Linked DNA regions of Homo sapiens: regions 1 and 2 are each reported to be linked to region 3. Evidence: microRNA targets listed by miRTarBase, many of them from high-throughput screens and not tested one by one. Region 3 holds a microRNA gene; each other region holds the end of a gene's coding sequence.
Evidence for each region. Region 3 holds the annotated microRNA hsa-miR-5011-5p (UAUAUAUACAGCCAUGCACUC, at 2,855-2,875, opposite strand). A microRNA usually pairs through its seed, bases 2 to 8, with sites in the 3' UTR of a target mRNA and lowers its output. Matches are read on the target gene's strand: a 7mer-m8 pairs with bases 2 to 8, a 7mer-A1 pairs with bases 2 to 7 and ends in A, and an 8mer does both.

Region 1 (3,000 bases), not on the chromosome of region 3:
AATAAGTTTGTGGTGATTGGTGATTCAACACCCGAATCATCTAGGTAAATCCTGAAAAACTCATATTTTATTAATTGCTTCTCCTTCCCCTTCTTTCCCCGTCCCCACTCCTTTCTCGTCTCTTTCCCCCCCTCTCCTTTTCTCCCATCTTTCACTTCTAATTTCAGTGAAATTGGAGCGATTTGAAATTCCAATCAAGGTTCGATTAAGCCCAGAGCCATGGACCCCTGAAACTGGTTTGGTAACTGATGCTTTCAAACTGAAAAGGAAGGAGCTGAGGAACCATTACCTCAAAGACATTGAACGAATGTATGGGGGCAAATAAAATGTTGTTGTCTTATTGACAGTTGTGCAGGAGGTAGCCTGGTGGTTTTCAACCTCTAGAATTTTAAGCCTTTGTTGAACTGTTAGAATGTAAGGTATATCATTCTAAAGATAGAGTAAAAAGAAAACAAAACCAAAAGTTATTAAAATTGTTGTCCGGTTTACTTTAACTTAGTTTTGCATAGTTCTAGTGCAGCTGAAATTGAAAAGTTATTTCCCTTTAGCTGTGTTATTATAGAGCAGAAATTCTGTTTTTAAAAATTAGCCTAAGATATACTTGTTTTTGTAAAGAAAAATATTTAATGTTGAACAAAATAAATTGGAGTTGGAGTAGAATGTAGTTTGAGGAAATTTGCAGCTTCCAATGCCTCTTGTCTTCCTATTTCAGAAGTTTAAATATTAAGCATGACAGAAAATATGTATTAACACTACTCAAAGCAAAAGTGCTGCAGGGCTTTAAAATTCTCTTCCAACCATTTATCTTGAAGGAAAAATTCAATAGTAATATAATACACAAAATCAAATAATACCTTAGAAGGTATTAAGATTATAATTGTTGCATAGGTTAGATATAGAGTCATTGTAATGTTGTGAATAATTACAGTGCCTAAAATAAGAATAGAACAACATATACAACACCAAAAAATATCTAGTAATATATTTAAAGGGAAATTGAGCTGCTTTTTTTGAAACTTTGAGATCTAAAAATAACTGTAATTATTTGAATGACTAAGAGGAAAGTACATTTTTTGAAATGCTGAAAATTGCCTTTCTGTGTTTATTCAAACTGAAAAGCTGAGACCAAGAGCAAGGAAGGTAAAAAGTTAACAGGCAAACATTTTCTCTTAGAAAAGGTGATAAAATCATAAGTATTTGGAATTAGAACCCTTGCACAGCACTGAACCTGGGAAAGAGATTTAAACTCTGAATTTATCTTTGATAACAGGGATTGATTTTAAAATGTACATGTATTAAATTACATTTGTAATTTAAGGTCTGTTTGCTGTTGCTGATTTTATTCTTGATCAGTAGTTTGCATTTCAGAAAGCCTTTCATTTTGCTTTAATTTTAGCAAAGCGGGTTATAATGAATGACTTCCCCAATATCTTGCTTGAACTTACAGGTGATTAACTTGGATGAGTTTTGGGAAGTTAAAGGGAAGAAAACACTGTTATCATTTTTTCCTGTTTGGGAAGAGCTTAGAAACTGGAAATACTAGATTTGGGAGAAGGGCAGAGTTACTTGATAAGGGACTGATGTTTGTGCAGTAACTTGGGAGTGTGGTTTCTTTTTGAATCTTTAATTAAAACCTGGGATTATATATCCCTGATAAATATTCACACTTGAACCATAGTTACTGTAAAATGCAAAAAATCTTAATACTGTTATTCTTTGCACTTTTTCTTAATCATTTTTTATATATATGCATATATATATGTGTGTGTGTGTGTTGCTTATGTTGTTTTGTACAGATGTGGGCCACCATTGCAACAAAATACATTCTTTTTGCTCTAAAATATTTATGAAGAAAATACTTAAATGTTATGTATATGGTGGTAATAAGGGAAAAATCAAGTATTATAAACAAGAATGAAGGTTTTTGTAAAGATTTCTGTTCAGCGTTTTGCAAGGTAAAATTTTAGGCAAGTTTTCCCTGAAGTTATGTGTATGTGAGTATTCTCATTCTTCCCAACTTGCCTTTGAAGAGTGAAATACCATTATTATCAAGTAGACTACTGTTCAGCTTTTATTCCTGCCCTGCTGTTTATCCCTTAAGAATGAGTTTCTTAGACTTTTCCAATATGTGATTTTTTTTCCCATTTAGAATGGTGATTTTAAATGTGTGAGTGCATGTACTATCTTATCTCAGATATTTGCACCCCCAATCTGCCCCCAACTCCCAAAAGCTAGAACACTGCCAACTGATCTGTTATAGGTCCTTTAGAAACACATAATTAACACTTAAGGTTGGGTGCTGCTAATTCTTTGCAAAAATCCAAATATTGTTAAGGGACCAGGGAGATGCCACTACCCCTTGATTTTCCATCTAAAAATATACATGTTTATGTAAACAAATCTTTCCATATCCATAGTGACTTTTCAAGTATTTAAGCCTAAAGATTTTGATCTCACATTTTTATACCTGTTTAAATTGCTCACAGTTATTACATACACATCAGCCATCAACTAAAGTTGTACTTTAAAAATTTACTACAATATGTACATTTCTAAGTCAAACACTTGTGACTTTTGCTTTAATTCCATGAATGTTCCTGCCTCCTTGATATTTGTATTTATTCTTTTTTTCTCTAGAGTAGAGGTATAATTGTGTGATATTTCAGAAATACAGATAAATGATTCAAAAAGTCACAGTTAAGGAGAATCATGTTTCTTTGATCATGAATAACTGATTAGTAAGTCTTGCCTATATTTTCCTGATAGCATATGACAAATGTTTCTAAGGTAACAAGATGAGAACAGATAAAGATTGTGTGGTGTTTTGGATTTGGAGAGAAATATTTTAATTTTTAAATGCAGTTACAAATTATAATGTATTCATATTTGTACTTTCTGTTAAAATGCATGATTGCAGAATTGTTTAGATTTTGTGTTTATTCTTGATGAAAAGCTTTGTTTGTTCTTGTTTTTAAGTTTGCACTCAAATCTTAAGAAATA
Region 2 (3,000 bases), not on the chromosome of region 3:
GATCTTCCTGGAGATGGGTTTGTTTTCTTCCTTAATCATATCTTGGGAACTCAGGAAAACCCACTTACTTCCTCGATGTCAGCCTAATGTCAAACTTTAAATAGCCAAAAACCTGGAATTGTGTTACAACAAAAGAAATCCAATTCCCACACACTTTTATTTTTCCTATACAGCATATGCTTACTGGTTGGATTGCTGAAACGCTGGTGGTGGACAGAGGTGCCTATGCACGGAGGGTGGGCCAGACCTCTGCATCCCTTTAGGGCCCCCAGGTAGGAGACCTCTGGCTGGGTGGCCGGTGGGGATATGTCTCATCTCTGCTCTACTAAAATAGAACCATATTCTGCAAAATACAGCTTAGCTCATAATCCTTTAATTCTTTCCACAGCTTTTTACTCAAGCCATCATTCTAATAAAATAATTGGTGATTCCGATTACCTAAACAGTAGACTAGCAGTGGCTAATTTTTTTTTTTTTTTACTTTTAAACTTGTCTCTAACTTAGAAAATTTTTTCTAAATGTATCGATTAGTGTAAAGAAAAAGTATGAGTAGTTAATAAATCTGACCTATTATACAAGAAATGCAATTTTGAAATACCAGATTTTCATTTTTTGTACTAAGTGTATCTCATTGTAGGCAATAAAAAATTGCATCACAGGCATCAAAAGTGGGAAAAAATTGTTCCTTTTATCAACCAAATAGAAACTTTCAATAACATACTTTGAGTGATAAAATGGTGATGTCTTACATTTACCATTATAGAGAGGTCTTGTGGTTAGAAATTTAAAAAGTGTTTAAAGATGATTAAGCATAGACAATTAAAAGAAACATTATATCTCTTGGTATTTTTCTCAAGACACTAAAATAATAAAATAAAAATATAATTAAGGAAAAGCATGACTTTGGGAAAAAAAAAATCACAAGTTAATTTTTATGGCTGGATTGAAACACTGTAAAATAGACAAAACCTCAGCCAGAGACAGACACCTGGGCATGCAGAAAAATTTTTTCAAAGCAAAAAATTTGTCTTATCCTATTAGTGAAATGACAACAGACTCTAGGTGTGTTTTATTAATGCACAGAGTCTAACAAGAGGTGCAGTAATGCTGGTTACTTTTCCTAATTCTAACATGGTCCTGGCTTTTTATAGTAGGCCAACTGGCATTAACATTTTTTATTTTTAAATAAAATGATCCGATTTCAAGTGGTTCTTTAAAATACCAATGAATGGCAGGATCTACATTTATTCACCGGGTTAAATGCTTACTTTTCGGTTGAAATAGAAAATGACAGTCTTGAACCAGAAACATCTTAGAAAATTGTAGTCCAAACTCTGAGAATAAAATAAACTCTATTTGGGTCTTGTTTTGTTATTCATTTCATGTGTTTTTAATTAAAGGGGCACAAAGCACTTGTGAAGAACAATGAAATGCAAGGTGGTATTTACATATGGTCATATGTATTTGGGAGCAGAAGTCATAGTGTGCCTGTGACTCCATGGAAAATAGCAACACAATAATAGAGAGTTTCTTAATGTAAACAATACAGACTGTAGGCTCATAGGGAAAACTTCCACTACTTTAACCTCACTGATTCTTTTGCATTGACAGTAAATACTGTACTGTATCTATGGATGCCATCTGCAGATTCTTAAAATACAAGATGAGGATTTCCTCACACACAACTTAGTGGGAACTTTCCATGTTCTGTTAAGCCTTTGGGTGTTTTTTTGATCTGTGTCCTTTTTTTTTTTTTAAATAGCAGCAATCCAACTTTAAAAAAATGCAGCACTAAAAAAATAACTAGTCCTTATTCCCATGCAGGACTAACTGCAGGCAGCACATTTGTATCTTGCTTAAGTTTTGACTTTGGATTCAAGTTTTTATTACAGGTGTCATGATTGCCAATACTGTCTTCTCTAGGTGAAGTATGGTTGCTTTGACTTTGGATCTAATCAAGATAGGGAAAGATCAAAAGATTTATTTCTGAAGCTTGCTACAGTTTTCTAGGGTCACATTACATCTGACTTTATTCCCAGTCCTCTTATCCTGTGAAGGCTGGTACACTAGGAAAGGGATATTTAAAAATGTCAAGTGTGCATAGCTAATGCTACTTAAAAGCATGCAACAAAATTTGGGTAAGCATGCTTGTTAAGAGTCAGTAGAAGCTCTTGCATTTAAGAAAAAGATGCATGAAAACATTCAGACTTATTTCTGGCAACTGGATTCACTGGCACAACATAAAATAATGGTACTATACTGTACCAACATAATGGTGAAACAAGAGTATTCTCCGATCAAGTCTTTGAGGAATCCACATCAGGAGGTTAAATTCCTAAATCCCTTAATAAGTTCTCAGCTACCGAATAACTACTTCAAAAATACATTTATGCTTCAATTTTCTCTTTTCTTCATTAACATAATGAAATATTTCTCTTTCTTTCTGATTTCCAACTCCCACCCCTTTTCAGTGCCCAGCAATTTTAATCTATATTTTTCTTTCACCCGCATTATAAAATTTGGCTTTCTGGTAACAGGGAGCCAGTGATTGTCTTCTGCTCATCTTCTTTGATTAAAGCTTCTGATGAAGAATATCCACGGTGTCTCTTACCATCGCTGTGCATTCTGGGCAGCAAGAGTCACTGCATCCTTCCTTTTGCTTGTTGGAGCCATCTGGGCCACACAGGTGAGGAGCACTTCCCAGCCAAGCTGAGTCACACACTTCCTTCACCACAAGTTAAACGGAAACACACACATTCAAATCCCAGTGCAATATCAGGTTTTCAGGAAGCAGGGCTTCCCCCAAAGATGATCAGTCTCTGTTTCCAAATAGTCTCACTCTTCGTTATGGACGATGAAACCTGGAGTAAGAAATAGAAACTATAAGCCTGTGGCCTAGGAGCACATTCTGCATGCAGTGAGCTGAATAAGGCGTGGTCATGTTTACAATGAAAAGGTACCCCAGATATCCCCCAACTGAATTACTGTTTACAAATTTCT
Region 3 (4,525 bases):
ATTAACAGAATTAACAGAAGAATTGTAAAGCAACAACAAAATCATGCATGTAGATATTGAAAAACTGTCAACAGAGTCATTGACAGGCCCAGACTGTGAGGAATCTGTGGAATATGTAAAGCAAAGGAGGTCAGATTCACAGCATAATTAAACTGAGCTAAGGAACATTCCATTCCAAAAAAATAGTAAAGTTAATTTTCCAAAAAGAGATAATGTGAAAGAATCTATAAAATGAGGGCCAGAGCCTTAAAGAAGAACACTATGAGGCATCTAGCTGGTTATCGTATTTAAAAAAACACAAAGTTTCTGCATAGAAAAAGAAAACAATCAACAAAGTGAAGAGACAACCTATAGAAAGAAAAAAAAATTGCATACTGTTTATTTGGCAAGGAATTTGCATATCCAAAATATACAAGATACTCAATTACAAATCTATTAGATATCTCTAGATATAAATATATATGTATATAATTTATAAAATGGGCAAAAAAAATCTGAACAGACATTTCTTAAAATAAGATATAAAGATGGCCAACAGATACATGAAAAACTGCTCAACATCACTAATGATCAGGGAAGTGTATATAATAGAATGGCTATAATAAAAAGAAAAAAAGCAGCCAGGCGCAGTGCCTCAAGCCTGTAATCCCAGCACTTTGGTAGACTGAGGCTGGCGGATCACCTGAGGTCAGGAGTTCGAGACCAGCCTGGTTAACATGGTGAAACTCCGTCTCTACTGAAAATACAAAAAATTAGCCGGATGTGGTTGCACGTACCTGTAGTCCAGCTACTTGGGAGGCTGAGGCAGAAGAATTGCCTGATCCCAAGAGGCAGAGGTTGCAGTGAGCCAAGGTCACGCCATTGAACTCCAGCCTGGGCAACAGAGCGAGACCTGATACTCTGCCTCAAAAAAAAAAGTAACATGCTGGCAAGGATGTGGAGAAAAAGCAAGTCTTGTGTTTTGTACACTGTTAATGGAAATGCAAATTAGTTCAGTAATTATGGAAAATAGTATGGAAGTTCCTCAAAAAACTAAAAATAAAACCACCATATGATATAGCAATCCCATTACTAGGTATTTACCCAAAGAAAATAAATCAATTATAGAAGACGTATCTGTATCTCCATATTTATTGCAGCACTATTCGTGATAGCCAAGATAAGGAATCAAGCTAAATGTTCTTTAAAAGATGAACAGTTGAGGAAATTGTGGCATATATATACAATACAATAATATCCAGTCATGAAAAATAAAATTCTGTCATTCTGCCATTCACAGATAAACCTGGAAGGTATTATGTTAGGTGAGATAAGTCAGGCACAGAAAGATAAACACTGCATGTTCTCTCATATGTGGGAGTTAAAAAATGAGCTTATAGAAGTATAGAGTAGAATTATGGTAATCACAGTTTGATAATGTTATTAAAGACAGAGAAAGGTTGATTAATGGATACAAAGTCACAGCTAGACAGGAGGAATAAGTTCTAGTGTTCTATAGCACTATAGGGTAAGCATAGTTAATAATAATTTATAGTGTATATTAAAAAAACTAGAAGAGATTTGGAATATTCCAAACATGAAGAAATGATAAATGTTTGAGGTGATGTTTATCCTAATTACTCTGATTTGATCATTACACTTCATATACATTTATCAAAATATCACTCTGCAGATTATAAATACATACAATTAATATGTGTAAACTAAAATGCAAAGGAAGAAAAACCCAACAAAGCAATTTCTCCACACGTTACCTAATCCACAACAAATGGCTTCTGAAGTTTACCTCAAGTAAAGGCCATAAATATGACTCTTTAAGGTAGAAATCTTAGAAGTAAGAGTTACTTAGCTTAATGCCCTCTAGGTTTATCCATATGTATTTCATTGTAGTGTTAGTAGCAATAAAGTATAGAAACGACCTAATTGCTCATTGAATGGTGACTGATAGTGTTACATATACAGCCATGCACTGTGTATTGCATCAGTCAACAAAAAACCACATATATAAATGTGGTCCAATAAGATTACGATACTGTGTTTTTAGTGTAATTTTTCTTTGTTTTGGTATGTTTAGATGTACGGATGCTATTGTGTTACAATTGCCTATAGCATTCAGTATAATAATAAGCTATACAGAGTTGTAGCCTAGGAGATACAGTCTATGTCATATTGTCTAAGTGTGTAGTACGTTACACTGCTGTGGGACAGGCAAGGCCCCAAACTGGGGCTTAGCCAGGGAGGATTTCTTGCTTAACCCCGGAAAAAATTCAAGGATGAGCTAGGAGTCTTAGCAATCGTTTATTGAATGGTACTGCTCCTTGCAGAGCAGGGCTAAATCATAGGCAGTGCAATCAGAGTCAGCAACATATGGTCTCTTGGCAACGGTATTTATACTCAGCGAGACCCACATTCAATTGCATGCAAATTGAGGGGTGAGCCAATGCAAATTGAGGGGCAGGTTGTTTAGAACTTTCTAAGGCAGGTCAAATGCATGCAAATTGAGGGGTGAGCCAATGCAAATTGAGGGGCAGGTTGTTTAGAACTTTCTAAGGCAGGGGCAGTAACTTTTAGGTTGTTGCCATGGAAAGAGGTGGTAACTTCTGGGTTGTGTTGCCAGGCTGCTCATATTGCTCATTAGCATAAGACACTACCACCAGCACCATGACAATTAAATTGCAATGAGTAGTTAGAGATTGCTTTTGTTGACATCTGCCACTTCCTATCAGTTTCTTCACTTCATGCTCTCTGGCCAGATCCTGTTTTGGTTAGCAGGGTTGTGACCAAAAAAAAGTCCTGCTGAAAGATGAATGGATAGTGTTATATATACAGCCATGCACTGTGTACCCAAACTACAGAGTGCATGGCTGTATATATAACAGCATCCACTCAATACCATCTAGGTTTGGATAAGGACACTCCATGATGTTCAAACAATGATAAAATTGCCTTAAGGTACATTTCCCTGTTAAGCAATGCATGACTGTGTGTGTGTATATATGTATATGACCATGAAATATTATTCAGCCTTAAAATAGAAGGGGATTCTGCCATATGAGGCAACATGAAAGAAATAAGTTCTATTGTTGGGGGTGAATAGCCATGAGAGTGGAGAAGGCCATCAGTTAATCCATGGTTTGTGGCATTGGCCAAGCATGACAAGCAGTGAAACCATATTCAAATATGGAATCAACTTTTCTGACGATGACAACAAACAACTGTTGGCTTTACTATACAAGTCAGAGGCAATTGTAAGGCTCTTTGTTGTTTAATGCCCCACAGGTAAAACTTTTCTGTCCAGGGAATATTCTAGAGCAATACTGTGCAAGAGACCATTGTGTGATAACACGTGTTCTACCCTTGCATAGTCCAATATAGTAGCCTGTAGCCACATGTGCCTTTGAGTATTTCAAATACAGCTAACACAATGGAGGGACTGACTTTTTAATTATTTTAATGTTTAGTTAATTAAACATTAAAATTAACTTTAAATAGCCAAGTGTAGCTCCAAGAAACATCTGGAGCTACCAGGAACTGGAAGAGATAAGAAAGAATTGTCTCCTAGAATCCTGGATTAAATGCAATCCTGCCGACACCCGAGTTTGAACTGGCTTCTAGAACTGGGGGAGAATACATTTCTGTTCTTTTAGCCATTTGTTTTATGCTAATCTGTTATGGCAGCCTGAGGAAACTAAAACAGATGGCTTCGGGGAGAAATTTGAAACAGAAGCAAGAAGTAAAAACAGTAAGAAACAAACAAGTATGTATTCATCACAGAGGTACAGAAATTAACCATCAAATATCCCAGGCCCTAGGGGAGGAAGTGCCACGGTGGCAGCAGCGCTATCTCATCAGACTGTTCCTGTGGGGGGATTTTACTGCCATTCTGGAACCTGGTTTCCATGGGGCTGCCCTGTTCTGAGCCTGTTTCTTTAGCCTTCCAATAATTATATGATTTATCCAATATAATCTATTACCTGGTTTAGGTCAATTGGAATGGATTTCAGTCATCTACAACCAAGAACACTGACAGGTATACTAACACCTGTCAGATAGTATTGTGAATTGTGGGGAAAGTGTTCCTAAACATGACAAAACACAAGAAAGCATTAAAAAATGGTGACAGATATGAGTATTTATGAGTTAGTTAATAAACATATATGACAATTTATATGGAAAACAAAGTATGTGATGCATGATGGATTAGGAAAACATACAATATATGTAACGAAATGATATACAATGTCAATATTTATTTTTAAGAAGCAATACTAAATTACAAAATAAAATATATACAATTCTATAGGAATAGAATGCAAATTACCAATACATACATGAAAATTAGAAAACTTTTGCAATTAGAAAAATATAAATCAAAACAATAGTGTTATACTACTTTTTTCTGAAATTAAATTGCAAAATTAATATATCCAAAGATACTCAACATGATCCATATTAGACATGGATGTGTGAAGAAGGCACTCCAATCTAGGTTTTTAAGGATATAAATTTGTAAAGCCGTGTCTCA

Region 1: the mRNA of ACSL4 is a reported target of hsa-miR-5011-5p. Seed matches in the 3' UTR shown: 7mer-m8 at 1,642-1,648, 8mer at 1,741-1,748, 7mer-m8 at 1,743-1,749, 7mer-A1 at 1,752-1,758, 8mer at 1,753-1,760 and 7mer-m8 at 1,755-1,761.
Region 2: miRTarBase lists PHACTR2 as a target of hsa-miR-5011-5p. The part of its 3' UTR that is shown has no 7-base or 8-base seed match.

Annotation. Positions count from the first base shown.
Region 1 is chrX:109,641,354-109,644,353 of GRCh38, reverse strand. ACSL4 (acyl-CoA synthetase long chain family member 4) reads left to right here. Exons shown (of 16, transcript NM_001318510.2): 16 at 168-3,000. The coding sequence ends at 325. Among named protein-coding and RNA genes, the nearest start is that of KCNE5, 18 kb to the right of the region's middle.
Region 2 is chr6:143,823,535-143,826,534 of GRCh38, reverse strand. It overlaps PHACTR2 (phosphatase and actin regulator 2), which reads right to left. Exons shown (of 13, transcript NM_001100164.2): 13 at 1-2,861. The coding sequence ends at 2,846. Among named protein-coding and RNA genes, the nearest start is that of LTV1, 18 kb to the left of the region's middle.
Region 3 is chr18:67,079,957-67,084,481 of GRCh38, reverse strand. MIR5011 (microRNA 5011) reads right to left here and starts at 2,898; the gene lies at 2,796-2,898.